2 separate regions of the Homo sapiens genome follow, and region 1 is linked to region 2. Evidence: fine-mapped expression QTL. A gene starts in region 2. The other region holds a variant in brackets. All regions are shown on one strand. Distances are between the middles of the regions.

Region 1 (5,382 bases), 190 kb before region 2:
TAATCGTGGGTTTCAGGCAAGGTGGGAGGCCTTCCAAAGTCACCTTGAGAACCACAACTCTTTGGTGCCATCTGCAATCCTCCATATCAGCCCTGCAGATAACAGGGAACTATGGCTGCTGCCTCCCTGGAGTAGGACATTCTTTTAAAAAGATCTGGGAGCACTTTAGGAGGTTGAGGCGGGTGGATCATGAGGTCAGGAGTTTGAGACCAGCCAGACCAATGTGGTAAAACCCCGTCTCTACTAAAAATACAAAAATTAGCCGGGCGGGGTGGTGGGCACCTGTCATCCCAGTTACTTGGGAGACTGAGGCAGAAGAACCGCTTGAACCTAGGAGGTGGAGGTTGCAGTGAGCCGAGATGGTGCCACAGAACTCCAGTCTGGGCGACCTTCCTGCACTCCCGGTGTTCGGGGACCAACAAGGCGTAATAAGGAGCCAGAGACCAAGGCCCAAGTCTCAGCTCTAACTGAGTATTATGGGGGTATTAATGTCCACCTCCCAGGATAGGGAGCACAGAGCAAGGAATACTAAGTATTGAAGCCCTGAAACGCCCACTTCCTGTACCTGAGTCGCTGCTGTCCTCTAGTGGCCACTGGATAAATTGCACAGCACGCCGGCCTGAAAAAGCGGAAGTGAGAGATGCTTTTCCCCACTTCTGAATCTACCAGATGCTGGGGGGTTCTCAACCATGCTCCACTCATGACTTCCTTTTTATAAAATGTATTTTGTGTAATTACAGTAATTTTTGAACATTTTAGGCAGATTTATTGAGGTATTGACATATAATAAACTGCCTAGAGATTACAATTTGATAATATCTGAGCCTTAGTATACAGCTGAAATCATTATCACAATCAAGATAGTGAAGAAAGCCATCCTCCCAAAAAATTTCCTTGTTGCCCCTTGGTGATCCTGCTTCCTGCCCTTTCTACTTCCCTCTCACCCCCAAGCAACTACTGATCTGCTTTCTTTCTCTTCTCTTTTTTCCTTTTTTTTTTTTTTTTTTTTTTTGAGATGGAGTTTCACTCTGTCACCAGGCCGGAGTGCAGTGGTGAGATCTCGGCTCACTGCAACCTCCGCCTCCCAGGTTCAACAGATTCTCCTGCCTCAGCCTCCCGAGTAGCTGGGACTACAGGCACCTGCCACCACGCCCAGCTAATTTGTGTATTTTTAGTACAAATGTTGTATTTGTATTTGTATTTAGTACAAATGTTGGCCAGGCTGGTCTTGAACTCCTCGCCTCAAGTGATCCGCCCACCTCGGCCCCCCAAAGTGCTGGGATTACGGGTGTGAGCCACCACGCCTGGTCCTGATCTGCTTTCTGTCATCATAGGTTAGTTTATATTTTCTAGTGCTTTCTAGACACGGAATCATACAGTGTGTATTTTTTTGGTCAGGTTTCTTTCACTCACCATAATTATTTTGAGATGTATCCATGTTGCTTTGTGTGCCAATAGTTCATTACTTTTTAAATGTTTAATTGTAGTTTTTGTGGGTACATAGTAAGGGTATGTATTTCTGGAATACCTGAGATGTTTTGATACAGGAATGCAATGCATAATAATCACATCATGGAAAGTGGGGTATCCAGCCCCTCAAGCATTTATCCTTTGTGTTACAAACAATCCAATTATACACTCTTAATTATTTTTATTTTTATTTTTTTTTTTTAGTTTTTGAGACAGCGTTTCACTCTTCTTGCCCAGGCTGGAGTGCAATGGCGCTATCTTGGCTCACTGCAACCTCCGCCTCCTGGGTTCAAGCATTTCTCCTGCCTCAGCCTCCCAAGTAGTTGAGATTACAGGCACGTGCCACTAGGCCCAGCTAATTTTGTATTTTTAGTAGAGACAGGGTTTCACCAGATTGGTCAGGCTGGTCTCAAACTCCTGACCTCAGGTGATCCACCTGCCTCGGCCTCCCAAAGTGCTGGGATTACAGGCATGAGCCACCACGCCTGGCCATTAGTTATTTTTAAATATACAATTAAATTATTATTGATTATTGCCAGCCTATTGTGCTCTCTAACACTAGGTCTTATTCATTCTTTTTTTTTTGTACCCATTAACCATCCCCACCTCCCCACATTACTTTTTATTGCTGAGTTCTGTTCCATTGTATGAATGTACCACAATTTGTTATTCATTCAGAATGATAGTAATTTTAAAAATCAATATAATGCCCTAACTAGAACATACAACAGAAACTAACTCAAAGACGAGTTCTGTATAAAAGCTCAAGGAAGCTGGGTGTGATGGTTCACAACTGTAATCCTAGCACCAAGGCAAGTGGATCACTTGAGGCCAGGAGCTCGAGACCAGCCTGGGCAACAGAGCCCCCCGACCCCCCCAACTTCTACAAATATTTTTAAAAATTAGCCAGGCTTGGTGGTCCAGGTCTGTAGTCCCAGCTACTCAGGAGGCTGAGGCAGGTAGATCACTTAAGGCCGGAAGGAAATTTGAGGCTTCAGTGAGTCGTGATGGTGCCACTGCACTCCAGCCTGGACAATAGAGACT[CA/C]AAAAAAAAAAAAAAAAAAAAAGCTCAGCCATGACCACCCTGACCCTGACCACTCTGGAACATACAATGATACAGTCGGGCACTTATATACTATACATGTACTAGCTGCGAGTACAGCCAGGCAGAGGTGGGGCAGATGAGCACATCAACTACTAGCACCACTGTCCTGGACATCACACAACAGGGGGGCAGGGCTGGGCTTTGAGCCCAGGTTTGTTTGGCTCTGAAGCCCAGTGGCTGGCCACTCCATGCAGGAGGGTACAGTGCTCTGTCGCCCAATGCATGGGGACTGGTGTTGAGCAGAGAAGATGGACATGGGCAGATTTTAGCTGGATGGAAGGATGCGTTTCTCACAGGGCTGACCATTGGGGTAGCATGTTCTTTTTTTAATTACGTGGATGGCGTGTTTGGGCTGGCTCACCCTGGGATTTCTCCCATCCAGCCATGACCCAGACTCATTCACTAAGGTCTATATTTGCCTTTTTTTTTTATTATACTTTAAGTTCTAGGGTACACGTGCACAATGTGCAGGTTTGTTACATATGTATATATGTGCCATGTTGGTGTGCTGCACCTATTAACTTGTCATTTACATTAGGTATACTGCCTAATGCTTTCCCTTCCCCCTTCCTCCACCCCACAACAGGCCCCGGTGTGTGATATTCCCCTTCCTGTGTCCATGTGTTCTCGTTGTTCAATTCCCACCTATGAGTGAGAACATGCAGTGTTTGGTTTTTTGTTCTTACGATAGTTTGCTGAGAATGATGGTTTCCAGCTTCATCCATGTCCCTACAAAGGACATGAACTTATCCTTTTTTATGGCTGCATAGTATTCCATGGCGTATATGTGCCACATTTTCTTAATCCAGTCTATCATTGATAGGCATTTGGGTTGGTTCCAAGTCTTTGCTATTGTGAATAGTGCCACAATAAACATACATGTGCATGCGCCTTTATAGCAGCATGATTTATAATCCTTTGGGTATATACCCAGTAATGGGATGGCTGTGTCAAATGGTATTTCTAGTTCTAGATCCTTAAGGAATCGCCACAGTGTCTTCCACAATGGTTGAACTAGTTTACCTTTTTAAAGGTATGTTTGTATTTCACTCACTTTGCATTTCACGGTAACCCAATCCAGGGGCTTTTCCCTGGCACTTCCCACAGCACAGACATATGCTCCTTCCTTGCCTGCTGCCCTCAGGGGCCAGCAGCAGGGGTGGCACTGCACAGTCCCACTGGGGGCCTCCCTCAGGGCAGAATATAATTTTATGGAAGAAAGTGTCTAGCAATGCTTTCTTGAGACAGGGTCTTGCTCTGTCACCCAGGCTGGGGAGTGCAGTGGTGCAATCATAGGTCACTGCAGCCTTGACCTCCTGTGCTCAAGTGATCCTCCCACCTCAGCCTTCCAGGTAGCTGGAACTATAGGCACACACCACTATGCCCCGCTAATTTACTTTATTTTTTGTAGAGACAGCGTCTCACTATGTTGCCCAGGCTGGTCTTGAACTCTTGTGCTCAAGGAATCCTCTCGCCTCAACCTCCCAAAGTGTTGGGATTATAGGCGTGAGCCACTGCACCTGGCCCATAGCAATGCTTTTGAGACAACAAGATTTTAAAACCTGCTACTGTAAGACAATCAGTCATATTTACCTTCTGGGGTAATTTACCTACTGTGTTATTACTGAAGGAGTCTCTTGGTTGGTGGTAACCCCTTAGCTTCAGAGTGGCCTGTCCTTGCAAGGAAACTTTGAAGAATTTAGTCCAATATTAGTGTTACAGAGAAGGACCCAAGGTCCATAGGAAGTGGAATGTAATACACAAGTTCTCCAGTCACTTCCTAACTCTGTTTTTAACATCTCACCCCAACAGTTTCCCCTGGATCCAAGTAAATGTGTAAGTCACGCTTTTATTCTTAAGCTTTGCTTCTTCCTGTTTTCCTTGGAAATGTTTTCCTCTGCTCCTTATAACTTTTTGTGTTGAATGCTCAGTTCATTTATTTTGTTTTATTTATTGGATTTTTGGTTTTGGTTTTTAGTCCCCTTTCCCCTCCTCTGTTGCTCACAGTGCAGACAACTTTGTGCAGTGGAAACAGTGCAGTCTTTGAGGCCCGAAAGTCTTTTGTTTTGATTCTTGGTTCAGCTTCCCGTGAGCAACTGTTAAGTCTGTTTTTTCGTATGTAAAAGGAAGGCAGTGATAGCCCTCTGCAGTGTTTTTTGAGGGTTAAATGGGATCGTGGTATGTAAGGAACATTGCGCAGTGCCTGATACATGGCAGATGCTCATCGGATTCCTGTCTCCTGATTGTTTCCCACCCTCCACATTTACAATGCCCACCTAGTTAATAAAACAAGCAAAACCTCATGGTTTCTTTTTTCTTTTGTGTCATTTATATTAGTACTTCTTGCTGTAATGTCACAGTGCACGAGCTGAGAGGTAAGTTGCCAGGAATAAGACGGGGACATAGCATAGAATAGCTATTAAAATGGGGGATTCTGGAGTCTGGCTGCTTCTTTCTGTCCCAGGCTTCTCCACAGACCAGCTGGATTAAGAAAATAGCATCAAAGCCTCAGGATCCTGCTATTTTGTTTTATTGGAACAAAAGCAGTTAAGACAATGAATTTACTTCTAAGTATAGCTTTGGTTAAATTGTAGACACTGATATGTAATGCTGTCTTTCTCATTGTTTTAGAAACCTGCTATTTAAAAATCTTTTTAATTTATTTTGTGAGACAAGATCTTGCTCTGTTGCAAACCCTGTCTCTACTAAAAATACAAAAATTAGCCAGGTGGGTGGCAGGCGCCTGTAATCCCAGCTACTTGGGAGCCTGAGGCAGGAGAATTGCTTGAACCCGAGAGAAGGAGGTT
Region 2 (5,315 bases):
TTTTAAAAACCAATTTCACCAGGTGACTTTTATAAATATTCAAAAAGCTCTCACTGAAGTCACTTAGGCTAGTGTGTCTTTCCAAATAGTTACCATTAAAAATAAAAGAACTGACAGAAATTCTGCCTCATATGTGAGACTTTTGTAAGGACTCAAATATAAAGTAATACTCTTCTGAGAGGTAGTAATTTGAGACGGAGTTTTAATTTAGGCATATATGGTATATCGGACTGGCCATTCTACATTAAAACTTTAAAGAAAAAAAAATGCAGAAAACAGTTCTTCATATTTTCTGTGAACTTTTTCCTATGCCTAGTAATACCATCAACTCTGAGGCATTCCAAGAAAGAACAATTTTCCAACTTACTCTCATTGCTTTCCAAATACACGCAATCTGTCATCATAGTTTTTTTTTTAATAAAGACAGTATCTTATATATCTGTCCTATTTTTATTCTCTTCCTAATTCTTTCCCATTTGCAGCACTATCCCTGATCATTGATCTTTATCATTGTAGCCAAAGTTGCTTGTTCTTCTCACTGTTCCAAATCCATTCTTGAATGGCTTCTTATACTATACAACCAAAATTTTCACCTAGTCATATCCTAAAACTTTCTACCACTATCTCAAAAATCTAATGGACAATGCTGCTATGAAAAAGAAGCAAATTTGACATTTAAGCCTTAAAAATATCAAAGTGTATTACTGCTCAGAGTACTTTAAGGACAAACAGGAAACCTGATGGGTACTATCTAGAAACAGGCTACATATTCCTTTTCTTTTCCATGCTTTTATTTTTTATTTATTTATTTATTTTGAGATGGAGTCTCACTCTGTCGCCCAGGCTGGAGTGCAGCGGGACCATGTCGGCTCACTGCAAACTCCATCTCCTGGGTTCAGGCAATTCTCCTGCCTCAGCCTCCCAAGTAGCTGGGATTACAGGCGCCCACCACCACGCCTGGCTAATTTTTTATATTTTTAGTAGAGACAGGGTTTCACTGTGTTGGCCAGGCAGGTCTCGAACTCCTGACCTCAGGTGATCCACCCGCCTCAGCCTCCCAAAGTGCTGGGATTTCAGGTGTAAGCCACCACGCCCGGCCTTCCATGCTTTTATAAAGTCTGAAATTATTATTAAATGGTGGTTATAGTCTATCAATGCAACTAGTTTATCACTTTAGAAGACTTCTGGGGCCAGAGAAGGCAAAAAAAAAAAAATCATTAACTATTAAAACAAAATTATAAGAATATGCAACAGAAATTAAATAACTTGAGTAATCTGCTTATCTATTTAAGTTCATGTTAGGCCTTAAAAAATTATATATATATAATTACCTCATCTACAGCCAGAATAAAAAAAAATCTTAAAAGAAACTATACTGGTAAAAAGAATTTGGATGGAAATAGCTCTAGAAAAACTAATACAACTTACAGACAGGTAAATTTCATAAGATATAATCTTACGTTTTATTAATTCAAACACTAATAGCTGCTATATGTAAACAGCTGGAGAAAAAAACCAAACTAGAAGAAATGAGTATTTCATGCTGTTTAGAAAAATGAAATAAATATGAAAGTAGTGATATATTAAAATATTTACTGTTTGATACCTCAAGCCTTTTAAGGGCAATATGAAGGAATTTCTAAAAATCAGTTTGCTTTATAACTTCAAAATAAAGTCCATGACTCAATGACAGCAGTTGATAGAGGTCAATTCTGATCAAGTTAAAGATCATATAGTGGGATGAAGTCTCCCAGACCTGGTCCATTACCAAGGCACAAAAGATACAGTTTCTCCAGATGTCAGGGGGGAAAATGACTTGGCACCGCATCACACACTTAAAATCCAATAGGGTTCCTTTAATGCAACACAGCACTGTGCGTCAAAGCATACCCTGGTGTAAAGGCAGTGAAATGGACAGAAACACCATTATTTGTGTTTCATTTCCTGAATGCCTTATAAACATGCACAACAAAATGCTCCTGATCCCCATCAGAGAGGATGAAAACAACCCAAATGTGCCCTTTCCACCTCCTCCCCTGGTATTGGTGCTTGCGCCTCAGCACTGAGGCTTGGAGTTGTCTTCTCAAACCATCATTGTCCGGTGGGAAATTCACCGAGAAAGGAAACGTGGGATAGGAAGTCTGTTACCAAAATAGAAATTAGTATTAAAAAGACCGATCCTACGCTCCCTCCACCCTCTCATACAAGACAAAATAAAAAAAACCTCCGTAAACTTGCCCTACCGTCACGAAGATCACACAAGCTCCGATCAAATGTGCTTCTCGATCATCTTTTAGGCAAGAGAGCGCTTGGGGTGCATTTTCGGCCCCTCATCTCCCACCCCCAGTCAAGCCAGGCCCCTGGACTGACAGGAAAGGCTGGCCGGACGTTGGCTCGGACGGGAAAGGCGGTTATTTTCGCCGAAGCCGCTCACGCTAAGGGTGAAGTAATGTAGGGCCAGAGGTAACACGGCTTAGGCTGTGGGCAAGGCCTCCGAACTGACTAAAGATAGGCAGGACACGGCAGCAGGGGAGGCGGGAGAAGCAGCCGGGCCTAGGCCGCACCAGGCCGCGGAGTGGCCCTACGCTGCTGCTTCCCGACCGAGGCTGCCAGCCAAGCCCCAGAGAAGAAGGTTATCATTACCTGGACGGGTTCCTGCAGCACCGTCATCCTCGAGGCTCAGGCCCACTTTCTGCAGTGCCTCAGGCCCCCCCTGTAGCGGCTCCGGCCCGGCCAGCCCCTGCTCATTTAAACTCACCAGCGACCGTTACCGGGGGATGGGGGAGGCCGAGCGATTGCCGAGTGCTTCCGAGCGGGACACGGGAATACCCGAAGTGGAGAAAGCCGAGCGGGAACCAGACGGAAAAGCCCGAAGGGAGTCGGAAATACCCGAGGTTGGTCGACGAGAGAGAAAACCGTTGCCGGAAATTGTCGAAGATTACCGGAAGCTACCGAGTCTGACCCAAAGCGTAGGTTTCTCTTCTCAGCCACGCCTTCAGCCACGCACACCACGCCCAATCGGCCGTCCCAGGGTTGGGCTACGCCAAATCTGCAACCAGCAGGCTGGGCGTGGCGTGACAGCGCGGGCGGGTAGCGTTACGTGGCGGGGCTGCAGTGTGGATTAGCCCCTCAGCCCTTTTGGATTAATTGGTGTGCTGTAGATTATGAAGCAAAGGGTGAAACAGCAGAGTTTGGGGCTGTCTTTAATGAATCAACAAGTATTTGTCTATTGAGTTTAGATCATTCGTCCATTCCAGAAGTATCTACTCACGGCTCTGGGGGAAAGCTAAAGAAATTTGGAAAGATTGCCACTCCCCAAAGACATAGGATAGCTTCTGTCTTCAAGGAGATTAAGGTCTATTTAAGGGAAAAGCAGTGTAACAGAGAACGCTATATTATATGGTGCCTATTATAAGTAATATAAAAATTCAGAGAGGGCAATTGTGATAAGATAAGGAAAGTTCTATGGAAGGAAAAAAAAGTTTAAAATGGAGTTTGAAGGATGGGTAAAATTAGAGGAAAAAGAAGTATAGGAAAGTGAAGGGAGGAAAAATGGGATCAGTCTGCTAAGAAGGCATTAATTGGAAATAGTTACTTAGGTGAAGAGATCATGGAAAAGCTCAATAGGCCATTAGAAATTTTTATTTTTGATAGGTGAGGCATTCCGCTGTGGTGGGAAGAGTAGGGGGTCGGAAATTCAGAGGCCTGGTTTTGAATTTTATCTTTAGCACTAACTAGTCATAGGTCCTTGGCAAATTACCTCTCTGAACTTATGTTCGCTTAGTTTGAAAAAAAAGGATTAAGAGAATTCGATGTATTATAAATGTGGCCGTGTCTAGCATGCAATGTAGACTCTCTCATATTTCCTTTCTGCTCCCCTTCTCCCCCCAAAAAGAGTGAACCAGGGGACTGTTTAAATTTTGTTTTTCAGCAGATGAGGAAACAGTTTTTGAAAGTTACTTTTCTAGTCAGGAGCTCTCTAGGCTAGATGTGAGAATCATGATATATTCCATTGCTTGGAAATTTCCCTTTGGGTGATGTTAGAGGGAGATATTTTTTCTTTCATTTTTAAAAACAAGGCTGACAGAGCTACACTGCATCCTTCTCCACCGCCTTGTCTTGTCACTGTATATATACTTATAGCCCCTAAAGGGCAGGTGCTAAGATGATTTTTGGCTGCCCTGTGCCCAGTTGCTTTAGCGGGATTATGCTGGATGACTTGAGTGGTAACAGACTTTTACACTGGCCTGGAAAGTAGCCATTAGCTATTTAAAGTTTAAGTTAAAATGAAATTAAAAATGAAGTTCTTCAGATGCCCTAGCCACATTCCAAGGATTCAGTAGCCCTGTATGTGGCTAGTGACTGCCATATTGGACAGTCACACAGATATAGAAGAACATCACCAGCACTGGCTTGGCTAGGGCTGAAAGATTCAAGATGGCTTCACTCACATGTCTAGGGTGTCAGTGGTAGCTATTGGCTGGGTCCTTCATTTCTTCTCTGCATGACCTCTCTTTTCACACTGGCCTCTTATGAGTCAGTAGTTTAGCTCCAGCTTCTTGACTTGGTGGTTGACAACAAAGTGCGCAAAAATAGAAGCTGTGAGGTCCCTTAGGCCTAGGCCTGTGAGCATCACTTCTTGTTGGTCAGAGTAAGACTCAGAGCCACCCTGGATTCACCAGGAGGAATAGTCTACTTCTTAATGGGAAGAGTGGCAAAGTAACACCACAAAGGGCGTGTGCCATGGGAGGAGTTTTTGGGTCATCTTTGGAAACAATCTACCACGCTAGATATGAGATGAGAGTATCTAAGATTGGGAATGGAAAGAAAGGGATAAGTAAGAGCTATCACTCTTAAAATGTGACCCTTTCAACTGAACACAGTACTCCAGATTTATTCTGAATAATTCAGAATGCAGTTGGACTATTATTATCTGGACACGTCTATTAAAGTGGACTACAGTTGTATTTACATTTTTTTTTTCCGAGACTGAGTCTTGCTCTGTTGCCCAGAGCTGGAGTGTAATGGCGCAATCTCGGCTGACTGCGTCCTCCGCCTCCGGGGTTCAAGCAATTCTCCTGTCTCAACGTCCCGAGTAGCTGGGATTGCAGGTGCGCACCACCACGCCCGGTTAATTTTTGTATTTTTAGTAGAGACGGGGTTTCACCATGTTGGCCAGGCTGGTCTCAAACTCCTGATCTCATGATCCACCCATCTCGGCCTCCCAAAGTGCTGGGATTACAGGTGTGAGCCACTGTGCCCAGCCTGTATTTACATTTTTTAGCAGTCACATGACACTGTTTGCTCATGCTAAA

Which allele goes with the higher level. Alleles are on the strand shown, and positions count from the first base shown. SD is a standard deviation of normalised expression in the study named.
As copies of CA replace C in region 1, the expression in skeletal muscle of the gene that starts at base 2,793 in region 2 goes down (moderate effect, 0.70 SD a copy in FUSION).

The links. PIP is the estimated chance that this variant, and not a neighbour inherited with it, causes the effect.
Region 1: its variant is the best candidate, but not a certain one, in a credible set for the expression of CDC27 in skeletal muscle (FUSION, PIP 0.70).

Annotation. Positions count from the first base shown.
Region 1 is chr17:47,000,729-47,006,110 of GRCh38, forward strand. All of the region lies in intron 6 of LOC101927060 (a long non-coding RNA gene), which reads right to left. It also overlaps a transcript of LRRC37A2 not described here. Among named protein-coding and RNA genes, the nearest start is that of RPRML, 24 kb to the left of the region's middle. RefSeq lists a silencer at 4,475-4,769. The variant CA/C (reference allele first, on the strand shown) is at 2,515.
Region 2 is chr17:47,186,503-47,191,817 of GRCh38, forward strand. CDC27 (cell division cycle 27) reads right to left here and starts at 2,793. Exons shown (of 19, transcript NM_001256.6): 1 at 2,644-2,793. The coding sequence starts at 2,670. It also overlaps a transcript of MYL4 not described here. RefSeq lists a silencer at 2,318-2,367 and enhancers at 2,401-2,997, 2,528-2,717.